Linked DNA regions of Homo sapiens. The protein of the gene in region 3 purifies or fractionates together with the protein of the main gene of each other region. This does not show direct contact. Each region holds a gene or a part of one and is shown on either strand. Other genes may lie near its edges.

Region 1 (3,500 bases), on a different chromosome or scaffold from region 3:
GAAAATGTTACCATCTTAATGGTATAAAGTCTTCCTATTCAAGAACATGGGACGTGTTTCCATTTATTTAGATCTTTTAAAATTTCTTGCTGGGTGCAGTGAGTTATGCCTATAATCCCAGCACTTTGGGAGGCTGAGGCAGGAGGATCACCTGAGGTCAGGAGTTCGAGACTAGTCTGGCCAACATGGTGAAACCCCGCCTCTACTATAAATACAAAAATTAGCCGGGCATGGTAGCAAGCGCCTGTAATCCCAGCTATTCGGGAGGCTGAGGCAGGAGAATTGCTTGAACCCAGGAGGCAGAGGTTGCAGTGAGCCGAGATCATGCCATTGCACTCAGCCTGGGCGACAAAAGTGAGGCTCCATCTCAAAAAACAAACAAACAAAACAAAACAAAATTCTTTCAACAATTTAGGTACAAAATTTTCAGGGTGAGACTTGCACTTCTTTTGTAAATTTATTCCTAAGTATTTTATTCTCTTTATGCTATTGGAAATGAAAATTTTTAATTTAATCTTTTGATTGTTAATTGCTAGCAGATAGAAATACAATTGATTTTTATAGGCTCTGAACCTGCCCTGATTCTCTGACAGACCTTGGACAAGCCTCCTTTGCCCTTTGAGTCTAAGACTCAGAGTGAATGAACAGATTGGATTGAGTTGGTGGTTCCAGTGATCCTCTTTAATAATTTACCTGCCTACATTTTTTAAGGCCCACGTTTTGGAAGGAATTTTGGTTATAAGATTTCACTTAATAAATATCTTTTTTTGTGTGTGTGTGGAGACGTAGTCTCGTTCTGTCACCCAGGCTGGAGTGCAATGGTGTGATCTCGGCTCACTGCAAGCTCCACCTCCTGGGTTCACGCCGTTCTCCTGCCTCAGCCTCCCAAGTAGCTGGGGCTACAGGCGCCCGCCACCACACCCAGCTAATTTTTTTGTATTTTTAGTAGAGACGGGGTTTCACCATGTTCGGCAGGATTGTCTCGAACTCCTGACCTTGTGATCCACCTGCCTCGGCCTCCCAAAGTGCTGGGATTACAGGCATGAGCCACCACGCCCGGCCTAGTATCATTATTTTTATTCATCAAAGACACACACCACGGGCTGGGCACGGTGACTCACACCTGAAATCCCAGCACTTTGGGAGGCGTAGGCAGGCAAATCACTTGAGGCCAGGAGTTTGACACCAGCCTGGCCAACATGGTGAAATCATGTCTCTGCAAAAAAAATACAAAAATTAGCCAAGCATGGTGGCACGCACCTGTAGTTCCAGCTACTCAGGTGGCTGAGGCATGAGAATTGCTTCAACCTGGGAGGTGGAGGCTGCAGTGAGCCAAGATCGCACCACTGCACTCCAGCCTGGGTGACAAAGCAAGACCCTGTCTCCAAAAAAAAAAAAAAGACACACACCACAATCTGTCAGAGTATATGCTAAACAACAGGTTACAGCCTAAAAACAGTAACAAATACTTGACTTTTTAGTTTGCCTAGTAAAGCCCTGTAGGTCATAAAAATACAATTCTATCAGACTATTTGAACTACTGAAAAGATATTAGCAAGTCCCATTAATATCTGACAGACCCCGAGGGACTAATTGTGCTGCCACAGGCACCTGAGGGGTTCCACATGTTGTTATCAGTAGCTGAGTTCATCCTGGCACCAGTTCTCACCCCAGATGCTGATACCCCCGCCCCCACATACACAGAGGGTCACCACACTGAATGTTCTCTAAGGAACCTTCCAGTTCTGAAATCCTGATTTCTCTCTTTAATCCTTATAGAATAGTGAGGCAGACTTTCAATAAGGAGATCAAAACCATGAAGAAATTCGAATCTCCCAACATCCTGCGTATATTTGGGATTTGCATTGATGAAACAGGTAAGGAATGCTTCTAGGATTGGTCAAGCTTTGGATGGCCTAGAACACACCTCCTGTGTTTTAATGTGTTGCATTTTTTTAAAGAACATCACAAAGGGTGGAATCCACAAAGTGTGATTATTATCAATGTTAATTTTTTTTTTTTCATCCCAAGATGCATGTTCTCATCTTCTTTCAGGAGGGCAGGGCTGAAGGCTGAGGGGTGGTTTGCACTAACATGGCCACATCTTCTCCTTTCAGCCCACTGGGAAATAAGGGGGTGCATGTTTAGATGCCAGCCTGGAAGAGGGGTGCATCTTGTTGCTCTAAAACATTATAAAGCTGCCAGGTGCAGTGGCTCACACCTGTAATCCCAGCACTTTGGTAAGCCGAGACAGGCAGGTCACTTGAGGTCAGGAGTTCAAGACCAGCCCAGCCAACATGGTGAAACCCCATCTCTACTAAAATACAAAAATTAGCTGGGTCTGGTGGCAGGCATCTGTAGTCCCAGCTACTCGGGAGGCTGAGGTGGGAGAATTGCTTGAACCTGGGAAGCGGAGGTTGCAGTGAGCTGAGGGTGCACCATTGCATTCCAGCCTGGGCAACAGAGCAAGACTCCGTCTCAAAAATAAAAATAAATTATAAAGCTGTCTGACCCAAAGAAGGAAAACACCCTTGGTCATCATTAGTATAGAACAAATCTAAAAGCAAAATTAACTTACCTGGCCAGGCGCTGTGGCTCAGCAGCACTTAGGGAGGCTGAGGTGGGTGGATCACAAGGTCAGGAGCTTGAGACCGTCCTGGCCAACATGATGAAACCCCGTCTCTACTAAAAATACAAAAAATTAGCCGGATGTGGTGGCACATGCCTCTAGTCCCAGCTACTCGGGAGGCTGAGGCAGGAGAATTGCTTGAACCTGGGAGGCGGAGTTTGCAGTGAGCCGAGATCATGCCACTGCACTCCAGCCTGGGTGACAGAGTGAGACTCTGTCTCAAACAAACAAAAAAAAAAACCATTACTTTACCCCTCTACCAAGAGCCTTATGTGACAGGCTCTTTTTTTTTTTTTTTTTTTCTTTTTTTCCCAATGTGACTGCATTTTCTCTCATGGAATGACCCCTCCTGCTGGTCATGTTTTGCTGCCGTCTTGCCTAGAGATTGGACAGAGCAACTCCTGTCTTATCCCCTTTGGAAGTTGCTCCACAGCCTCAGGCCAACTTGATTTCAGAGTGTGGAATCCCAATCTAAAGGGAAACGTAGGCCAGGCACGGTGGCTCACATCTGTAATCCCAGCACTTTGGGAGGCCAAGGTAGGTGGATCACCTGAGGTCAGGAGTTTGAGACCAGCCTGGCCAACATGATAAAACCCTGTCTCTACTAAAAATATAAAAATTAACTGGGCGTGGTGGTGGGTGCCTGTAGTCCCAGCTACTCGGGAGGCTGAGGCAGGAGAATTGCGTGAACCTGGGAGGCGGAGGTTGCAGTGAGCCAATATCATGCCACTGCACTCCAGCCTGGGTGACAGAGCTAGACTCTGTCTCAAAAAAATTAAAAAATAAAAAATAAAGACAAATGTTCAGCAACGTTTGTTCTCCTTGGGGACCGCTGAGGTGCCTGGCTCAGTCACATGTCAGTTTTGCAGCT
Region 2 (4,063 bases), on a different chromosome or scaffold from region 3:
TTTTGTGTCTTTTATACTTTTGCGTTGTGTCGATTTGTAAAATAAGTAGGAGCTAATTTTCAAAAAAGATTTAAAAGACTTATTCCTGGTGATGTTTCTTTATCTCTCTCTTTCTCCATTTTGTCTCTATTTTAGAATGATCCTAAAACACAAAAAACGTACTTTCAATGGCCCAAATCATGGAGTGGCTCAGGGAAATGAAATCTGTCTACAAAAAAAAAAAAGTTGAGAATCCTTGTCTTTTTTTCATCATACAGTTTTTTTTTTCTTTTGGTATCACCATTACTTCTCCTAAAGTCACGACATAATATCACCTACAGCAGAAATGAGGACTTCAGTGGAATTGACATCTCCTTCCATCAAGCGCATTTGCAGTCCATCTTTAGCAGGACCTCTCTCTAATGGCTAAGGCTAGGCAGAAGAATTTGAAGACAGTCTGGTTTCCATTTTCCTAATGCAGCCTGGCCCAAGAGCCAGGACTCCCATAAGACTAGTCTACTGTGGGAGTCAGGGTCTTTTCCACGTGTGGAGGCTAGTGTTTGATGCTGGACGGCCTGGAGTAAAGGGCGAAGGGGAGAAGGTAACCAACCAGGCTGGCCTCGGGATTCGCAGAGGAGGGCTGGGGCTTTGACTTCTGCAGGGAGGTGAGCAGTGTGGCCAAGGGCTACTCAAGGAACGCCTCTGCGAGAATTCAGACTGTGGTTGAGCGCACAAAGCAAGAGTGTGCGAAGAAAAGTTAACGCCTCTCCCAGCTGACCCCAAAATCTGCTAATCTGGGCCTGACGGAAAAAATTCGGAGAAGAACCACCTCGGCCGAGTTACGTGAAAAGGCTGGGTACGAACTACTCTGGCTCTACTTGGGGCGCCGGCTCAGAGCGATGGGCAGGACGTCCGCGAGGAAGAAAGAGTGACGATGATTTTTCAAGGAGTCTGAACCAGCTCACCCAGCAAACCCTCCTCCCATCGAGCACCCAGCGTACAATCATCGAAGGGCCGAGGGTCCTGCCCTCAGTCTCGATGGCGGCCGGGGCGCGCCCCGGCCACGGCGCACGCGCCGGCCTCAGCGCTCCCTCCTCCATGCCCTCGGCGCACGGCGCCGCCCACTCACCCAGCTGCACCTCTCCGTGCGTCCCCAAGCTCACCCGCTCTGAGGCTGCCCCCGCTAGTCTAGCTGCCGAGCCCGGAAGTGGATGCAGCCGCTCGGCGGAGAGGACGAGGGGGAGGGGGAAGTGCTTCCGGGGAAACGGGCCGGGGTTGGTGTTTGTAAACTTGCCTCGGTCCCGGTGGGGGCAGCCGCGGCGGTGGGGTTGGCAGGGTGTGCTGGGGCCTGGAGGAGGCGCCGCGCGGCCAGGGAGCCAGCGGGAGGCCGCGCCTGGCAGGTAGGAGCAAGCCCCAAAGACCGCAGCGTCGTCCGTACAGACGGCAGCGCTTCAGTAGCTCGCAAGCCGTGGGGTGCCGCGCGGGAAGGGGGAGGGGAGGGGAGGAGGGGCGCGTGGCGAAGGGAGGGGGATCTCCGGGGGAGGGAGGGGAAAGGCCGTGCGCGCACACCGCCCCCTGCCCGCGCGTCCCGCCGCGTCCCCGGCCCGGGAGAGGGCTCTCGGAGGGGACGCGGGCGCGAGCACGCATCTCGCGCGCTTCTCGGCACTCTCCGGCTCTGCTCCCGGTTGGTGCAGCGGGTGCAGAGGCTGGCTGGCCGGAGCGAGGCGGGCGACACGCCGCGCCGGGCTTCGCCTGCCTGTCCTCCACCTCCGCAGCAAGTTTCCCTACCTTCGGGCGGACGGGGAGAACGCACACGTGTGGGCACTGCCAGTCCCGTTTCTGCCCGCCACCGAAGCACCCAGCGATGGCCCTTGAGCTTTCCTCCACCCTAGTCTTGCCGCCTCTGTAAAGTGCGAGCTTTTCGGGCCGGCCCACTGGGCACAAAAGCCCCAAAGGGTCTCCGCCCCCTTCTTCCATTCCTGAGATGGCAAATCCAAGCAACTTTCCTTTTGGCAGAGTTCCTCCATAGGAGGCCCCAATTACTTTTGCTCCTGTTGGCTTCCACTCCTTGCCCAGGAGACCAGTTCCTCCTATTGACCTAGAAAGAAAACTCTTCTTGACTCATGTCCTCGTTCTGAGCTTCACAGAGAGCGCCCAGCAAAAAAAAAATTCATATCGCACGTTGTAATGGCCTGAAGATGTTGCATTTAGCAGCCCCCCTCTTCCTTTCTGGTTTCAGGTTTCTGAAACAGATCGTGAGCTTCATCAAGAGAATTCAACTGGAAAACCAAGACTGGTAGACTCTCTTTTTCTTCAGACAATAGGCAGGAGCCAGGCAGAGTCCAGGGATTCTTGGAACACCTATCTTTTCTTCGGAGGACACTAAGTTCTATTTGAAGACAAAGTTCAATATGGCAACAGGACTGATGGGACACGAAGGAGTCGCTACCGTGATTTGGTGACAGTTCTTCAAAACGACAGTGTCTCAAGGAAAGGTGGACCTAGGAACTCCTGAACTTTTGGGTTGCCTTAAGTGAGAAATCAGCATGGCTCAGGTAAAAAGCTCTAGAGTCCTCCTCCAAGATAACTGGGAAGCCTGTTTGCAGTTTCACTCTTGAATGCTGCCTTAGTCAACATATTGACCAACCCCAGTGATCCAAGCTCTGTATTAAGCACCAGGGGGAGATCTAGAGGAAGGAAAGGAGACAGGCCACAGCCCCTGCCTTCAGGGAGCTTCCAGTCAAATGAAGGAGGTAGGCTATACTGCATCACAGGCACTGATGGGACATTTGCAAAGCAACGTGTACTCAGTTTACATTTGGTACATTAAGTGCTGAGGGGTGTAAGGGAGTGAATAGTACGGTGAATGCTTCTTTTGTTTTTTTCCAACAGGAATTTATTGAGTTCCTGTTGCATGCAAGGCATTGTGCTGGGAATACAAAGATGAATACGATTGTCCTTGTCCCCAGTGAGCTTCCAGGCTAGTTGGGGTCGGGAGAGGGATGGAAAGCCATTTATTTTTATATTCACAATGCCTTGTATAGTGGCTGGCTAGTAGTAGAGACTCTGAATCTGTTGATTGAGGAATGTGCAATAATAGGGGTATGTACATAGGAGAGAACAGTACTTCTGCTTGGATAGAAAAAGAAGATGGAGGTTGAAAGATGCATAGGATTTTGCTAAACAAGCGAGAAGGGTGTTTGGACAAAAGGAACAGCATGGGCAGGAGCTTAGAGTCATGGGAAAATGTGATGAGGTTCCGAGTACTGCAGGTTGTTTGATAGTTACGGAGTAAGGGATTTAAATGGGGATAGTTATGGAGGTAGTATTGACAGTGATAGGTGAGGAAGTTGTTCCCTGCAGTAAGCAGAGTGTAACCCAAAGGCCTTTTATGCCTCGCTAAGTTAAGCAGCAGAGTAGCATCAGATCAGTGTTATGTAGAAGGTCATTATTGTGGAGGTAGAGGATGGACTGGAGAGACAGAATGAGCAGATAGGCTGTTGTAGTCATCTGAGTAGAATAGCTATGTGCACACATCTCCAGAGCTTCTCCCAGCTTGCTTCTAGGGAACCTCCCTACCAGTCTCACCAGGATGGCAGTCTGATTGTAGTATAATTGGCTTTCCTCCAGCTGCTTCTGAATGCACAGCTTCCTCCTTTCCATATAGAATAGGAGCCTGTCAGTTTCTTCTTCCTTTGTGTTTTGCAACCCACTTCTCAGCATTGTATTCAGTCTTCTGAGAATGCTGCCTTCCACTAAGGACTGAACTTTGTGCTAGACACTGTTAAGCGTTTTACGTCTTAGTTTACTTTTCATCAACCCTGTAAGGATAAGCATTATGACAGGCATTTTTCATGTAAGGAAACTAAGGCTTGCAAAGGTGGAATAACTTGCCCAAGATTATAGAGTGCAAACAGCTGAGCTAAGATTTTAACTCTGGATCTTTCACTCCAAAGTCCCAGAAGGTGGAGGGAGGGGTCCCAGAACGTACTGATCATCTAAAAGGAATTTCTTCATAAATTTGTGAGTTTGCTGACCAACGATTTCTTAAAATTTTTTTTTTCAGTAAGAAAAGTATTTTCTT
Region 3 (3,500 bases):
GTAGTAAAAAAAAAATTTTTTTTTGGCCCTCAATCCAGGATGCGGAACACTCAGATCCTGTGGTATGGACGATGAGCAGTGAAATGTTCAAAGGAATATTTTGTTTTCTAAGCAGTAAGTCTCAATGCTAGGCTTAAAATATTCAGTAAACCAAGCTATATACAGGTGCTCTCATCTAGCTTTGTTGCTTCATTCATAGAACATAGGCAGAGTCGATTTAGCATCATTCTTAAGGGCCCTAGAATTTCCAAAATGGTAATTGAGGAGAGGCTTCAGCTGAAAGTCACCAGCTACATTAATCTCCAACAAGAGAGCCTGTCCCCTTTGAAGCTTTGAAGCCAGGCATTGACATCTCCTTTCGAGTTATGAAAGTTCTAGATGACATCTTTTTTCAATAGAAGGCTGTTTCATCTACATTAAGAACCTGCTCTGTTGTGTAGTCACGCTCATCAATGATCTTAGCTAGAGCTTCCGGGTAACCTGCTGCAGCTTCTCCATCAGCACTTGCTGCTTCACCTCACACTTGCATGTTATGGGGACGGTTTCTTTCCTTAAACCTCATGAACCAACCTCTGCTCACTTCCAACTATTCTTCTGCAGCTTCCTCACCTCTCTCAGCCTTTAGAATTGAATAGAGCAAGGGCCTTGCCCTAGACGAGGCTTAGGTTTAAGAGATTGTTGTAGCTGGCTCGATCCTCTATCCAGACCACTAAAACTTTCTCCACACTAGCCACAAGGCTGGTTCACTTTCTCATCACTCATGTGTTTGCTGAAGTAAGACTTTTAATATCCTTCAAGACCCTTTCCTTTGCCTTCACAATTTGGCTAACTTTTGACCTAGCTTTCAACTTGTCTTAGCTTTGGACATGCCTCCCTCACCAAGCTTAATCATTTCTCACTTTTGATTTAAAGTGAGAGACGTGCAACTCTTCCTTTCACTTTAGCACATAGAGGCCGTTTGGGGTTATTTATTTATTTATTTATTTATTTTTGAGATGGAGTTTTGCTCTCGTTGTCTAGGCTGGAGTGCAATGGCACAATCTTGGCTCACTGCAACCTCCACCTCCCAGGTTCAAGGGATTCTTTTGCTTCAGCCTCCTGGGTCGCTGTGATTACAGACCTGCACCACCACGCCTGGCTAACTTTGTATTTTTAGTAGAGATGGGGTTTCTCCATGTAGGTCAGGCTGGTCTTGAACTCCCAACCTCAGGTGATCTGCCCACCTCAGCCTCCCAAAGTGTTGGGATTCTAGGTGTGACCCACGGCGCCCGGCCCATTGTAGGGTTATGAATTTTCCTAATTTCAATATTGTTGTGTCTTCAAGGAATAGGGAGGCCTGAGGAGAGGGAGAGAGAGGAGGAGATGGCTGATCAGTGACAGGTTAGAGCACACAGATTTATTAATTAACTTCGTCATCTTCTACAGGTGATATTTGTGGCACCCCAAAGCAAAGCAATTATAATAGCAACATCAAAGATCACTGGTCACAGATCACCATAACACATATAATCAAAATGAAAAAGTGTGAAATATTGTGAGGATTACCAAAATGTGACGCAGAGACAGGAAGTGAGCATATGCTGCTGGAAAAATTGGCACTGATAGACTCGCTTCACACAGGGTGCCACAAACCTTCAACTTGTGAAAAATGAGTGCAATATCTATGAAGTGTAATAAACCAAAGTACAATAAGGTAAAGTGAGATAAAATGAGGTCTGCCTGTCACTTCCTCCTTGAGTGGCGGGCGGGACCTTATCCTGAGATGTGTAAGGCCTGGAATGGTTTTTGTTTTGTTTTGTTTTGTTTTGTTTTGTTTTGTTTGAGGAAATTGCTAATCAGAGACTGTCAGTGCCAGAGCATGTAGAGCCGTCTTTTGGGGTCCCTGGGAGGACTGGGAGAGCCCTGGGATGGGGGCTTTCTGGTGTTATTTCTGCTCCTCCATCTCACTGCTGTGAAACTAGGACAGGACTGGCTACATGATCTGGGGGCCCAGTGCAAAGTGAAAAGGTGGGGCTCCCTGTTCAAGACTTTGTACAAATCTAAAGACAGTAACAACAAAGGCTCAAGCTGAGCTCGAAATCCTTCCAAGAGCGGGTCCCTGTGGAAATGCCCAGGCCACGTGCCCATGAAGCTGATCCCCCATCTTCTCTTCCCTAGGTCGTCGTCCCGCAGACACACAATCCAGAAGTCACTTTCCTCGAGACATTGGTCAGCCCATCACTCCCAGCCACTCGAAGCTCACCCCCAAGCTGGAAACTATGACTCTTGGAAACAGGAGTCACAAAGCTGCAGAAGGCAGCCACTATGTGGATGAAGCCTCACACGAGGGGAGCTGGTGGGGAGGTGGGATTTAGTGCACAGCCTCACGTGGGGCTTGGACACAGGCTGGGGGTGGGCGCATGCTAGGGAGACTAGCCTGCTGCTCTCTGCATTCCTTAGCGTCTTGTTTGACCTGCTTGCTTCCAGACATAACCTGCATGAATCAGTTTTGGGGGAATGGACCTGGCATGGGGATGGGTTCAGGCCAGGTCTTTTGATGGCCAGGAGTAGATGACAGGGAGTTGCCTTGGGGAACCTTTGGTGTGCCAAGAGGAGGTGGGTAGATGGGAGTGGGGCTCGGTCCCCCAGGCCCAGGGGACTCTCTCCACTCTTTCCTGGGCTCGGGGCATCTGCCTGGAGTTACCTTCCATCATGGCTACCTGCTGTGGTTTGAATGTTTGAGTCCCAACAAAATTCATATCAAAACATAATCCCAACTGGGTGCAGTGGCTCACGCCTGTAATCCCAGCACTTTGGGAGGCCGAGGCGGGCGGATCAATAGGTCAGGAAATCCAGACCGTCCTGGCTAACATGGTGAAACCCCGTCTCTACTAAAAAAAAAAATACAAAAAATTAGCCGGGCGTTGTGGCGGGCACCTGGAGTCCCAGCTACTCCGGAGGCTGAGGGAGGAGAATGGTGTGAACCCGGGAGGTGGAGCTTCCAGTGAGCCGAGATCGCGCCACTGCACTCCAGGCTGGGCGACAGAGCGAGACTCCGTCTCAAAAAAATAAATACATAAATAAAAAATAAACCAACCATAATCCCCAGTGCAGTGGTATGAAGAGATGGGGCCTTTTGGAGGGGATGGAGTCAGGAGGGCGAGTGGGATTGTGGGATTAGCGCTGCCATGAAAGGGCTTGAGGGAGCCTGTTAGTCCCGCTTGCCTGTCCGCCATGTGAGGATGCAGTAACAAAGTGCCATCCTTAAAGCCGAGACCAACCCCTCATCAGACACTGACTCTGCTGGCACCTTGATCTTGGCCTTCCCAGACCCCGAAACTGTAAGCAATAAATTCCTGTTGCTTATAAATTACCCAGGGTGAGGCATTTTTTTATAGCAGCCTGAGCCAACTGAAACACTGCCCCACTCTCTCCTCACCTGAGGTCTCACTTCCTCAAGGCCCATTGTGGCCACCTGACCTCCTTATCACCCGACCTTTCTAGAATCTTCTCTCCTCAGC
Region 4 (3,500 bases), on a different chromosome or scaffold from region 3:
ATGATTAGGAGAGAAGTTCCTTAACATGAAGTGAATTTATATTCCAAACTATCAGTTAACATTAAAACTTGGTGGTAGATTATTAGCAGCAGAAATTTAACGTGAACACTCCAGTTGTTACAATAAAATACGTAGCAGTAAACAACAAGAAATATGAGGGAAAGTAGAAAACTATAAGGAATCTAAAATATTTGATTAAAAAAAGAGACCTGTGATATTGGGGTTGGGGATTTTTTAACATATTAAAGATGGGATTTTTCCCCAAATCAGTCTATGGATTTGATTTTATCTAGTCAAATACCAGTACAACTAGTTTTGAGAAGTGACAGGATTACTGTAAAATTAATTTGAAGAAGTGGCTTAAATTTTTTTGAAAGAGAATAACAATGTTTGGGGGCAGTGGGAGGAAGACCTAAATGTATTTGATAAAATGTACAACATACAAAGCCATAATAATTAAAACAGTTCAAGACTGGTAGGAGAATAGGGTTGGATTCAGTAGAACAAAATAAAAAGTTCAAACATAGTTCAAAGTATATATAAGTATTTAGACTATAAGGGCATGTCAAATCAGCGGGAGAAGGATGGATTGTACAATAAAGGAGGGTTTTTCAAACCAAATGTCATAATTTATGTGTGAGTTATGAAATCAATTTAGTGGACTATGAGTATAAAACAGGAAAGAAAACATTTGCTATTACATAATAAGGGTGAGTGTTGTTTTTTGTGACTTTAGTTTTTGTTCATGTGTATATGTGTTAGGTTATGATATAAAGTGTATTCCTTAATGTGGATTATAGTTTGAAAAGTTTGAAAGCCAGTGCAATAAATGGTATTTTCACAAATAGCTAACCATTTGGAGAAAGCATTCAAAAAGGATACAAAAATATACAGACAGAATAAATGAAAGACTGGACTAAACTATGTCAGTGGAAAAATGTAAGAATAGTAGTAGTAAGTCATTCAATAGAGGAGAGTTCAAAGCAAATGTATGAAACAAAGTATACAAGGTTGTAGAATAACAGCAAATAATGAAAACATTATTAAATGTATATAACTCAAAAAAGCCACTTAATAAAAACTGTTAGAAATTAAAAAGCAAATGATAGAAATACAGTAGAAAGATTGACATTTTTAATCTTAAATATGCCATAAATATGGTAAAAATAAAAGATTATAAAAAATGAAATACAGAGGATATTGAATGTTACCTGTCCCCAAATATATGTTTTTGATGAATGTAAAAAAAATTAAGGCCAGGCAAGGTGGCTCACACTTGTAATCCCAGTACTTTGGGAGGCCAAGGTGGGCAGATCACTTGAGGTCAGGAGTTTGAGACCAGCCTGGCCAACATGGTGAAACCCCATCTCTACTAAAAATACAAAATTGAGCGGGCGTGGTGGCACGTGCCTGTAGTCACAGCCACTCGGGAGGCTGAGGCAGGAGAGAATCACTTGAACCTGGGAGGCGGAGATCGCACTGAGCCAACATCATGCCACTGCACTCCAGCCTGGGTGACAGAGTGAGACTCCATATCAAAAAAAAAAAAAATTTCACTTCTGTCACTTACTGTGTAACTTTGCACGTAAGATCTATAACTTATACTATTATATGAAAAAAGAAACTGACTTATTTCTTTCTGTTTTTAGAGGACTATTTTAACAAAGGGAAAAATGAGCCTGAGGACAGTAAGCTTCGATTCGAAACTTATCAGTTGATATGGCAGCAGATGAAATCTGAAAATGAGGTGAATACTTTTTTTAATAATTTTCTGTAACACCCTAAGTCTCATTTTTGTTGCATCTCATCTTCCTTTCCACCAGTTTACAAGAGTATTGATGAAATATAGGAAGTATTGGTCAAGCATAGCCTGTATATCCTTAAAAAAACAACCATAATCCAGCCTGGGCAACTTGGTGAAACCCTGTCTCTACAAAAGCTACAAAAACTAGCTGGGCATGGTGGTGTGCACTTGTAATTCCAGCTACTCAGGAGGCTAAGTTGGGAGGATAACTTGAGCCTGGGAGGTGGAGGTTGCAGTGAGCCGAGATAGTACCACGGCACTCCAGCCTGGGCAGCAGAGAGAGATCTTGTCTCAAAAACAAAAACAAAAAAAACTCATATTTCTTGTGAGTGGAACAGATGTTTATGATAGCTGTTAAGGCAAGGAGCTTTCAAATGGTGACGCTCTTAAATTATCCTTTCAGGTATACAACTGTGAAATCAAGCTGTTTCTAAACTCCTTCACTTTCTCATCTTTATATTCCAGCTCTGAAACATTTCTTCACTATAGCAAATTGGTAGCTCTAGGGCCAGCATTTTAGGCTGACAACTTTTTTTTTTTTTTTGGCCAACACAGTGTTGTAGTTTTTGGTTTAATTGCCTTTCGGAAGGTTATATACTTTCCAGTTTATTACTGCCGCCTACCAGTCCTTACTGATTTACACCTAGTGGTAATGAGCAAAGGCTCATTCACGTATTCCATGTGATCCTTCAAGGTATTTGAATTTGTGGTTTCCAGTTTAGGCCGTCTTCATTTCTGAATCTGGATTGTTATATCCTCCTGACTGGCATCCCTGACACCATTGGCCAAATTAGAAAAGACCCTTTTCAAGGCAAATGCAGCCCAATTCCAGGCAACCCCTCCAGCCCTGTTGCCAGATTAACCCTTCTTAACCCTGATCCAATTATGTCTTTACTTCACATCCCTTCAGTGGTGCTCCCCATAGGACAAAATCCAAACCCTTTAATGTCATATATCATATATATATTATATATTATATATATATATACACGTTTATATATATATACACATATATAATATATATATATATATACATATATATATACAATTTTTTTTTTTGAGACAAGGTCTTGCTCTGTCACCCAGGCTGGCGTGTAGTGGCATGATCATAGCTTACTGCAGCCTTGACCTCCCAGACTCAAGTGACCCTCTCACCTCAGCTTCCCTAGAAGCTGGGACCACAGATGTGCACCACTACACCCAGCTAATTTGTCTTTTATCTAAAAAGATGAGGTCTCACTATGCCGACCAGGCTTGAGAGGGAATTTTTAATGGGGGAACCCAGAGCACTAATTACTAGAGATTTAAGGAAAAAACATTTTTTAATTAGGTTCATCTTTTGATCATTTTACATCATTGAATCCATGACAATTTTCTTTCCACAACCAGGAAAGACATCAGATTATTATTTCTAATAATAATAAGTTTTTGTGTGTTCTTTGTAGCGACTACAAGAGGAATTAAATAAAAACTTGTTTGACAATCTGATTGAATTTCTGCAAAAATCACATTCTGGATTCCAGAAGAATTCAAGAGACTTGGGCGGTCAAATAAAACTCAGAGAAATTCCAACTGCTGCTCTTGTTCTTGGTATATATGCGTATGTTTGTTCATGCATGCATCTCTGTGTATTTCGTTTTTAAATTTTTTTTTATTGTTGAGAATAGTGGAAGGACCTGTTTTGATGAGCCTATTT

What was found. The genes of interacting proteins can lie anywhere in the genome.
Region 1: the proteins of ZBP1 (region 3) and MLKL purify together in Homo sapiens (affinity purification with western blotting, with the first as the bait; one study listed by BioGRID). This does not show direct contact.
Region 2: the proteins of ZBP1 (region 3) and ZNF740 purify together in Homo sapiens (affinity purification with mass spectrometry; one large-scale study listed by BioGRID and IntAct). This does not show direct contact.
Region 4: the proteins of ZBP1 (region 3) and ORC3 purify together in Homo sapiens (affinity purification with mass spectrometry, with the first as the bait; one large-scale study listed by BioGRID). This does not show direct contact.

Annotation. Positions count from the first base shown.
Region 1 is NC_000016.10:74,683,863-74,687,362, reverse strand, and holds part of MLKL (mixed lineage kinase domain-like protein), read left to right. Parts: intron 1-1,779; coding exon 1,780-1,877; intron 1,878-3,500. UniProt on the Homo sapiens protein: Pseudokinase that plays a key role in TNF-induced necroptosis, a programmed cell death process. Does not have protein kinase activity.
Region 2 is NC_000012.12:53,179,459-53,183,521, forward strand, and holds the start of ZNF740 (zinc finger protein 740), read left to right. Parts: upstream 1-1,263; 5' UTR 1,264-1,379; exon of another isoform or gene 1,380-1,467; intron 1,468-1,767; exon of another isoform or gene 1,768-1,893; intron 1,894-2,218; 5' UTR 2,219-2,525; coding exon 2,526-2,534; intron 2,535-4,063. Other genes in the region: CSAD (cysteine sulfinic acid decarboxylase), read right to left, coding at 319-350. UniProt on the Homo sapiens protein: May be involved in transcriptional regulation.
Region 3 is NC_000020.11:57,603,427-57,606,926, reverse strand, and holds the end of ZBP1 (Z-DNA-binding protein 1), read left to right. Parts: exon of another isoform or gene 1-114; intron 115-1,425; exon of another isoform or gene 1,426-1,514; intron 1,515-2,157; coding exon 2,158-2,354; 3' UTR 2,355-3,075; downstream 3,076-3,500.
Region 4 is NC_000006.12:87,600,135-87,603,634, forward strand, and holds part of ORC3 (origin recognition complex subunit 3), read left to right. Parts: intron 1-1,649; coding exon 1,650-1,747; intron 1,748-3,249; coding exon 3,250-3,394; intron 3,395-3,500. UniProt on the Homo sapiens protein: Component of the origin recognition complex (ORC) that binds origins of replication. DNA-binding is ATP-dependent. The specific DNA sequences that define origins of replication have not been identified yet.